Homo sapiens: one gene and its partners. The protein of the gene in region 3 purifies or fractionates together with the protein of the main gene of each other region. This does not show direct contact. Each region holds a gene or a part of one and is shown on either strand. Other genes may lie near its edges.

Region 1 (3,654 bases), on a different chromosome or scaffold from region 3:
CATCAGGCAAGTGGACGCGCCTATCTCCCCAACCAACACTTCACATACAGGTTACCTGACGGTTAAGGACACATATTCCAAATTCAGGCTGCCTGTGTTCAAGCCCCATGACCAGGGTGGGCTGCCTGATGTCTCCATGCCTCAGTTTCCTCTTATGAAAATGCCTCTGGGGTGATGGCAGTGACTGCCTCAGGGGGCCTGAGTAGGGAATGCATAAAAGAAGGTACATCCAGAGCTCTGCACGGGCTTGGCCGTGTGATGATGACTGCCCATTCTGCTGCCATGAGCGCTGGGGTGATGTCCAGAGGAGGTGTCCTCAGAGGGAAATACACAATTCATCTCACACCTCTGCTGCAGCCATGGGCAGCACCGACCAACAGGCCTGGTCTGTCCATCCCATGCCAACTCTGGCTTCGCCTGCCTCCCTTGTGGCACTAGTTGCTGCCCTCAGCTTTGGCCCAGCTCAACTCCACCCCTTGTTTCTACAGTACCCAACTCCTGGCCTGCTGGGCCTAACCTGCCCCAAACCAACCTCTCTGGGAGGAAGAAAGAGTTTGCCTGGGCTCTGAACTACTTTGACTGCACATGTGTCACTGGGGCCTACAGTCTGCGTCTGCCCCAGGCCTTCTGGACCTTTTTTTTTTTTTGAGACAGGGTCTTGCTCTGTTGCCCAGGCTGGAGTGCAGTGGCATGATCACGGCTCACTGCAGCCTCGACCTCCCAGCACAATCAATCCTCCCATCTTGGCCTCCCTAGGACCTTCTGTTCTTTCAAGCACAGGGGACAGCTGGGCTGGCACCTACCTGAGAAGGTCAATGTCCGTGTAGCCATATTTAACCTTGTAATCCCCGATCCGCCGGGTGCTCTCCTGCCCACAGATGATCCCCACCTGCTTGATCTTTCCAGCATCCAAGCCTACGGAGGGAAACAGTGCAACAATCCTGCTTCTTGTTCACAAAGAGGAACAAAAAGAAGGGGACAGAGACACAGTCATGGGAAGAAGGCAATAAGGACCCACTGAATAGGAAATGAAGACAACACCAGGGCACCTGGGAGAGCAGCTGACCCAAAGTCCCTGGTGTCCTCAGTCCCCACGCCCATCACGACACACCTCACTCAGAGCCCGTCCTCCAGGCACCACCTGGCACGGAGCAGCTTGCCTGCCGTCTCCCTGCCCATCCCGTGTGCCCCACATCTGCCTGGAGCTCACTGGGAAGGGAAGGAGCAGCTCAGCAGCAGCTGGGCTCCCTGGACTTCTTTGGCCTCTTTCAGTCTCCACCAATAACAGTAAGTGTCTTCTGTGTGCCAGGCACTCCAGGAAGCATTTCACATGCACTAACTGAATCCTCCTAGCATCCCGAGGTAGGTTACTATTATCCTCATTACACAGCGGGGGATCTGAGGCACAGAAAACTTAAGTTCCAATCACCAACCAGTAAGCGGCAGTGCTGGGAATGAACCCCAGGCAGGCTGGCTGGGGAGCCCAAGATCACAGCCCCTCTACCACACGCCTCTCTACCCCACCACCAAAGGCAGGCGAAGGGTGAGCCCATGGGGATCAGCTTCCGCTCCCACTCTCCCCACTCACCCAGCTGCGAAAGACGGAAGAGCTCATCCTCGTTCTCTGTGGTGTGGTCCACGTTCAGCTGTGTCACCTGCAACCCATCCACTGTCGATTTGCATAAAAGTGCACGGTTTGTACCTGTGGCAGAATGTGAACAGCTAAGCAAAGACTACACACAGAGAGAAATAGGGCATACCGGGAAGGCAGAGAGGGAAAAGGCAGGCATTTCACACATGGAAATACCTGAAATGGGCAAAACAGGCTCAGACCAACGGGGTGAGTCACCAGTTAGGGACAGCTGGTGATACGAAAGAATTGGGTTTAACTTTTTCAGTGTAATCATAGGATTATGATCTTAATAAAACAGACCTCTTCTCTAGAGATACAGACTGAAATATTTACAGATAACATGATACAGTGTCTGGCATTTGCTTCAAAATAGAGAACGTGGGGACAAAGAAGGCTGGCCACAGTTGATAACTGCTGGGATTGGGGATGGGCGCATGAATGTTCATTAAATATCAGTCACTCTATTGTTCTATATTGTGGAAAATTTTCCACTGGAGTATTAAAAAAAGGCAGCATCATCAGAAGGGTCTCTACAGAGTCCTTTCTACTGAAACCTGCACCTGTCTGGTCTTCTCACAAACCCCAATGTCCCTGTCACCTAGCCCCATCTCGCAGCTGTTCATGGGGATACTGGTTGGTTATTCATGGCCAGGTAACCTCTTCCAGAAGCAGCGGCCCCCAAGGCCACCCAGAATGGGATACGACTCGTCCAGAATGAGTTAAGAAGCAGAATAGGGACTAAAGGCCAGGACACCTGTCTCCCATCCCGTCCTTTCTCCCTTCCAGTTGGGACTGAGGCGTCACTGTGGAGAGGGACATACCCAACGGTCTCAGGAGACCCTGGGTTTAAAGTGCGTGAAGTGTCTGGAAAGCAGATTGTCAAATAATGCACCGACCCCTGTGGCTGACCTCTCCCCAGTCCTCCCTGCCCTGGGACAGGAGGGGGCTCACCGACATTGGCGACGTAGAGCTTGTTGTTGAGAAGGACCGCCACAACGGCCATGGCCCCTCCCGAAATTTCCCTCTCTAACGTCTTGAGTCTCTCAAGGATCTTCTGATACTGAGGAGGCAGCTGGTGCTGAGGGACTCCCTACAACCATCAACAGAGGGTCAGGGCAGGACAGAACTCTGGACCATCTTCCTAGCCCTCTCCACTCCCTTTACTCTTTTTTTTTTTTTTGAGATGGAGTCTCGCTGTGTCCCCCAGGCTACAGTGCAGTGGCATGATCTCGGCTCACTACAAGCTCCGCCTCCCAGGTTCACACCATTCTCCTGCTTCAGCCTCGAGAGTAGCTGGGACTACAAGGCGCCCACCACCACGCCCAGCTAATTTTTTGTATTTTTAGTAGAGACGGGGTTTCACCATGTTAGCCAGGATGGTCTTGATCTCCTGACCTTGTGATCCGCCCGCCTCGGCCTCCCAAGGTGCTGGGATTACAGGCGTGAGCCACCATGCCCGGCCTCCCTTTGCTCTTAAGAGCAAAGATCCGAGGGCCCGGGGGACAGACAGACAGATGGTCCATGGCACAGCCAAGATGAAGCCTTCGCTACAGCTCCAGGCTAAGGTTCTTCCAGAAAGCTGGAGATGACCGAACTCACAGCACAGAGGTAAGCGCTGCAGGTGGCAGTAGGCGATGTGAGCAGGTGGTTGACAAGGGCGGGGACCCATTCAGGACGAAGGACTGGGAAAAGCCCTTCCTCATGTCCACCACTGCCCAGACACTGCTGAGCTTTAGCATGCAGCTGCCCACAGCAGAGCAGCGAGGTCCCTCACCTGTGGCCACACACCAGTGTCACCCATCAGGAACTGCTCCCTAACGCCTGTTGCTCTGGCCCAGTAATGTCAAGAAAGTAGATGAGTCCATGCTCCTTGCAAAGCTGGGCCTGGACTTGACTCCCCTGGGTGTCGGCTGGGGAAATTACCTCTGGCAATTGCGACTGGAGGCTTGCCTTCTCAGCCAAGGCGTCGTCAATGGACTCCAGGAAGCTCCTCTCCACCACATCGAAGGCCTAGGGGGACA
Region 2 (3,654 bases), on a different chromosome or scaffold from region 3:
CAGCTAATTTTTGTATTTTTAGTAGAGATGGGGGTTCTGCCATGTTGCCCAGGCTGGTCTTGAATTTCTGGCCTTAACTGATCCACCCGCCTCAGCCTCCCAAAGTGCTATGATTACAGGCATGAGCCGCCACACCCGGCCACATTTTCTTTTTTTTAATAACAATCCATTTATGGTGGGAGGAAGAACCGACAATTAGGAATAAGAAGCTGAAGGTTCTACTCTCATGTGTGCTACTATTTTCTCATGATCTTAGGCAAATCAGCTAAGTACGTGCAGAATCAATTTCCTCATTTATAAAACAAATTATAATCAATGCCAGTTATCACAACATGCCTATAGTTCTATGTATATAAATGCTTTGTAAATGGCATTAAATGGTACAAAAATGTAACTATCAGGGAAGAAAACAAACAGTTTAAATTATAACTTTTTTTTTACAACTATTTTGGAAGAGTACTTAAGGTAAACAATCATTCAACAAAATATTTATTGAGCACCTACAATGAGTCTTGCTCTGTTGCCCAGGCTGGAGTGCAGTGGTGCAATCTCAGCTCACTGCAACCTCTGCCTCCCGGGTTCAAGCAAATTCTTATGCCTCAGCCTCCTAAAAAGCTGGAATTACGCCCAGCTAATTTTTGTGTTTTTTTGTAGAGATGGGGTTTTGCCACATTGGCCAGGCTGGTCTCGAACTCCTGGCCTCGAGTGATGTGTCTGCCTTGGCCTCCCAAAGTGCTGGAATTATAGGCATGGGCCACCGTGCCCAGCCTGAAAACAGAAACTTTTTAAATGCTTTTTTTTTTTTGGTAAATTACTTCTTCCATGATTAGAGGGACTATCTTCAAAGTAGTACAAATATTTCGTAAATAATATCTGACCATTTTCTAACCAATTGAGTAATTTGTTGCACAATAAGCCATCTCACATCTTTCAGCAAGAAATACATTAAATTTGAATAGTAAAGACATTACACAATTAGGCTTAGGACAAAATTAAAATTTGCCTGAAGTATTTCTTTGGGGGAGAGGACACCACACTTCTACTCAAGGAAGAGAAACATTTTTACAGTCCAGAGGTCTTTTATTTTTATCTTTATTTTTTATTTTTTTGAGATGGAGTCTCGCTCTGTCGCCCAGGCTGGAGTGCAGTGGCACAATCTCTACTCACTGCAAGCTCCACTTCCCAGGTTCACGCCATTCTCCTGCCTCAGCCTCCCAAGTAGCTGAGACTACAGGTGCCCACCACCACACACAGCTAACTTTTTGTATTTTTAGTAGAGATGGGGTTTCACCACGTTAGCCAGGATGGTCTCGATCTCCTAACCTCATGATCTGCCCGCCTCGGCCTCCCAAAGTGCTGGGATTACAGGTGTGAGCCACCGCGCCTGGCTATTTTTTTTAAACACTATTATGCATGAATTCACAGAGAAGAGGTTCCAGCAGCTCAGACTTCTTTCCCTTGGTTTTCACACAGCGCGCTTCTCTGGGTGGAACAGGCTGGCACTTCAGCTAAATGCAGGTACCTTTCTCTTTGGCTTCCTTCTTTTTCTGATCATTTTCCTTCATGTGTTTCAGGAAGCTATCTCGGCTCTTAGAGTGCTTAATGTGCTCAATATGCACATTAATTCTCTTGGTAAGAATCTTGCCCTTGTTTGTTTACAACAATGCCATTAGCCACGCGTGGTGGCGTGCACCTGTAATCCCAGCCACTCAGTGGGGCTGAGGCAGGAGAATCGCTTGAACCTGGGAGGCGGAGGTTGCAGTGAGCCGAGATCACACCACTGCACTCCTGCCTGGGCGACAGAGCGAGACTCTGTCTCAAAAAAACAAAAACAAAAACAAAAACAAAAAAACAGCAATGCCAACAGCCTGCTGGGTAACACTGTAGACTCTTCCAGTTTAGCCACGGTAACACTTGTGGGGCATTCCTTTTTGAACAGTACCCATTCCCTTAATGTCTACAGTATCACCTCTCTTTTAGATTTGCATATACGTGGCCAAAGGAACAACTCCATGTTTTCTAAAAGACCTAGAAAACATCTATCGGGTATCTCTCCTCCTTTCCTTTGGATTAGTCATTTTGGCGAATTACTAGAAGATTGGTAGTTCAGGCCAAAAGGCAATGCTGACTATTCTTTATAAGAATACAAGATAATATATTCCCTCTATCAGTCTTGACAGTATAGTTGTACATTTTCAACTTACATAACATAAAAGCATACTTATTCTAAAAACATAAAAAAAAGGCTTCTTACCTTGAGGCGCCAAATGCTGTACATGTGAAATAAAGCTGTCTAGTTTCAAATGGTATTAGAAAAGGACATTTGCTGGTTAATTGTTCACACCAGTCTGGCAGAGCCCCACTTGCCAGTGCCAATGGTTCCTGCGAATTAACAAATAATAATGTCTTAGTGCTATAAGGCATTCATGCATGCATGCATTCATTCATTCGTTCATTTTTTTTTTTGAGACAGAGTCTCACTCTGTTGCCCAGGCTGGTGTGCAGTGGTACGATCTCGGCTCACTGCAGCCTCTGCCTCCTGGGTTCAAGCGATTCTCCTGCCCTAGCCACCCAAGTAGCTGGGATTATAGGCATGTGCCACCGTGCCCAGCTAATTTTTGTATTTTTAGTAGAGACTGGGTTTCGCCATATTGGCCAGGCTGGTCTCGAACTCCTAGCCTCTAACGATACACCCACCTTGGCCCCCAAAATGCTGGAATTACAGGCATGAGCCACCACACCTGACCCTATAAGGCAATTATTAAAAATTACCAAGTCAATTATAAACCTGTAATTAGGAAATAAATGCAAAGGACCATATAGCTCAAATTACCAATCAGAGGGAAGGGAAAGATGGTGAGAGGTAGAAAAGAAAGTAAAGGGAATATTAGGAAAAGTCCAACAGTAATAGAATGAAGAGTTCAGCTGTCTGATTTTATTACCTCAATCTGCTGTAATATTTTTGTTGTAATTTTTTTGCTAGTGAATTCATCTGGTGGAAAAGTAAACTGAGGCTGTTCATCACCATCTATAAAATTAATTAATAAAATTAATAAAAATATAAACTGACTTGCTTTAAAACTGCTATAGAAATGAAACAAGGCTTCTTACAGACCTTCCTGGGATATTCTTGAATAAGGGTCACTTGCAACTATATATAGAATACGCAGAAGCTGAAGGACATCTTCTACTCCACAAGAGTTCTGTCCATTGCCTGCTTTGGCCTGAGGTTGTTCTTTTGTTAAATTAAGAATATCACTACTTTGAAGAGTAGAAATGGCCCCCTGGTTTAACCCAGACTTTGTTCCATGCTCACAAAAATCCTATAGAAACAATTAGAAAAACTGGCCATTAATCACATTTTCAAGAAAAACAGTGTATCATTGTATCAATACCACTATGAAAGGGTTGGAATTTTTTAAAGTGCCTTCTTTTTAAATAAAAACATAACACAAGACATAAATCAAGGCATTCTAAACCATTAAAATTCCCAAATAAAATATAACCACTCTAAGCCATGGTCAAAGTCTGCATTCAGATCCAATGCTACCAGCCATATTTGAAATTTTAGAATTTGTGCATTAACAGTGTTAATTCAACCTCATTTTTAAAATTATGTCTCAATGAACTGCTGTTCCTTAAGAAGCTTCCAAA
Region 3 (2,368 bases):
AGAAGACTGCTGATCCTGGCTAAGCAGAAAATGCCTTTCATGGTTTCACTCTTGCAAACTTTTCCCCACCACACATCCTTTCCCTGCCACTGCCTAAACCACCAGGTTTCCCTCTGCCTGGCCGCCTCTGCCCCTTGTCTGTCTGATGACCTCTAAGCAGTCTTCAAGGGCCCCTCCCCTGAAACCTCCCTATCCTTCAGGTAATGTGCTCCTCCACCTCTAGCATTCATCACTCTATCATTCTGAATTATAAATGTCGACATACATATTTGTCTCCCAGACTAGAATATGAGCTTCTTGAGAATCAGTTCTGTCTATACAGAAGAATTATGAAAAGAGAGATACACAACGCTTTACCCACAGTAGGCATTCCAAAGAAGGGTTCTGGAGTAAATACAAAAGAGATAGTGGGGCATGGTGGCTCATGCTTGCAGTCCCAACTACTCAGGAGGCTGACGTGGGAGGACTGCTTGAGCCCAGGAGTTCAAGACTGCAGTGAGCCATAATCACGCCACTGTACTCCAGCCTGGGTGACAGAGCAAGACTCTGTCTCTGAAAAAAACAAACAAACAAACAAACAAACAAAAGACCTGGAAATCTCTAGGCTAGAGACCATCAGGAGTGGGAAGAGTAAGTAAAGCCAGAGGAAGAGGAAAATGGACGGGGATGGCTTTCAAAGGGGCTTGCCCACTCCTGTATTTACTTTTTTTTTTTTTTTTTGGAGACAGTCTGTGTTGCCCAGGCTGGAGTGCAGTGGCGCAATCTCGGCTCACTGCAACCTCAGCCTCCAGGGTTCAAGCAATTCTCCTGCCTCAACCTCCCAAGTAGCTGGGTCTACAGGCACCTGCCACCACACCCAGCAAATTTTTGTCTTCTGTTTTGAGACAGAATCTCACTCTGTAGCCCATGCTAGAGTGCTGTGGCACAATCTCAGCTCACTGCAACCTCTGCCTACCAGGCTCAAGAGATTCTCATGCCTCAGCCTCCCGAGTAGCTGGGATTACAGGCGCATGCCACCACGCCTAGCTAATTTTTTGTATTTTAGTAGAGATAGGGTTTTACCATGTTGCCCAGGGTGGTCTCGAACTCCTGAGCTGAGGCAATCCACCCGCCTCAGCCTCCCAAAGTGCTGGAATTACAGGCGTGAGCCACCATGCCTGGCCTGATTTTTCTATTTTTAGTAGAGATGGGGTTTCACCATGTTGGCTAGGCTGGTCTCCTGATCTTAAGTGATCCACCCACCTTGGCCTCCCAAAGTGCTGGGATTACATGCGTGAGCCACCGCGACCAGCCCACTGATATATTTCTAATATTGGATCCCCAGCACACATAAACCTGAATGGCTTTGAGGAGCTAGAGCTCTGATGAAAGGAGCTCAGAAGCTAATAAACATCACAGCCCCAGAGAGAGCAATAACATAGATCTAGCTCAACACCTAAAACAGAGCTTGGCATATAGCTAGTACTAAGAAAACAGTATTGAATGAATGGCTATTTCCTCCTCCTCATGTGTTCATGTGGAGGGACTTTGGCTAAACTAGCGCCCCTCACTTATGTCTCCCTAGGTCTCTATCCAGGCCGGGGTAGAGAATCTCATGCTCCTCTTACCTCTGACCCAATCTCATTGGCAATGATATTCATGAACTCTGAATCACCCTCCTTCCTACAACAAAGGACACAGACATGAGACCCAGGTTGGAGTGGTGGCTGTGAAACTGCAGGAAGCCTGGCCCCTCCTTCTGAGGCTGGCCTTGCTGCCTATGTACACATAAAGTCCCATATCCCTTAGCCAAGAGAGAGTACTGGCTGAAAGCCAGCAAGCTGCCCTTCTCAGCCTCTGCAGTTTGTAATCAACCTCCAGGTTTGTTTCCATCTCCCTTAAATAGGATTCACCAGGATAAGCAGAAATCTGTTAGAGAGTAAAGGAGGTAGGGGACAGTCCTAAAGAAAGATACAGGCTGGACACAGTGGCTCACACCTGTAATCTCAGCACTTTGGGAGGCCAAGGTGGGCAGATTGCTTGAGGTCAGGAGTTCAAAACCAGCCTGGCCAACATGGGGAAACCCCAGCTCTACCAAAAATACAAAAGTTAGCCTGGTGTGGTGGCACATGCCTGTGATCCCCCAGCTACTCGGGAGGCTGAAGCACGAGAACCGCTTGGACCCAGGAGGCACAGGTTACACTGAGCCGAGATCATGCCACTGCACTCCAGACACACTAAGACTCCATCTCAAAAAAAACACAAAAAACAAAAGATACAGAGTTACAGTAAATATGTTAATATCAAACCCAGGAGGCCTGGTATGTAACATATTTCTTTTTTTTTTTATATTTTTGAGATGGGGTCTCACTCTGTTGGTCCAGGCCGG

Evidence for each region.
Region 1: the proteins of AARSD1 (region 3) and TAB1 purify together in Homo sapiens (affinity purification with mass spectrometry, with the first as the bait; 2 studies listed by BioGRID). This does not show direct contact.
Region 2: the proteins of AARSD1 (region 3) and HECTD1 purify together in Homo sapiens (affinity purification with mass spectrometry; 3 studies listed by BioGRID, with this or other methods). This does not show direct contact.

The regions. Positions count from the first base shown.
Region 1 is NC_000022.11:39,416,780-39,420,433, reverse strand, and holds part of TAB1 (TGF-beta-activated kinase 1 and MAP3K7-binding protein 1), read right to left. Parts: intron 3,644-3,654; coding exon 3,557-3,643; intron 2,724-3,556; coding exon 2,585-2,723; intron 1,703-2,584; coding exon 1,589-1,702; intron 916-1,588; coding exon 804-915; intron 1-803. UniProt on the Homo sapiens protein: Key adapter protein that plays an essential role in JNK and NF-kappa-B activation and proinflammatory cytokines production in response to stimulation with TLRs and cytokines.
Region 2 is NC_000014.9:31,110,162-31,113,815, forward strand, and holds part of HECTD1 (E3 ubiquitin-protein ligase HECTD1), read right to left. Parts: intron 3,324-3,654; coding exon 3,116-3,323; intron 3,029-3,115; coding exon 2,943-3,028; intron 2,383-2,942; coding exon 2,255-2,382; intron 1-2,254. UniProt on the Homo sapiens protein: E3 ubiquitin-protein ligase which accepts ubiquitin from an E2 ubiquitin-conjugating enzyme in the form of a thioester and then directly transfers the ubiquitin to targeted substrates.
Region 3 is NC_000017.11:42,952,117-42,954,484, forward strand, and holds part of AARSD1 (alanyl-tRNA editing protein Aarsd1), read right to left. Parts: intron 1,663-2,368; coding exon 1,608-1,662; intron 1-1,607. Other genes in the region: PTGES3L-AARSD1 protein, read right to left, coding at 1,608-1,662. UniProt on the Homo sapiens protein: Functions in trans to edit the amino acid moiety from incorrectly charged tRNA(Ala).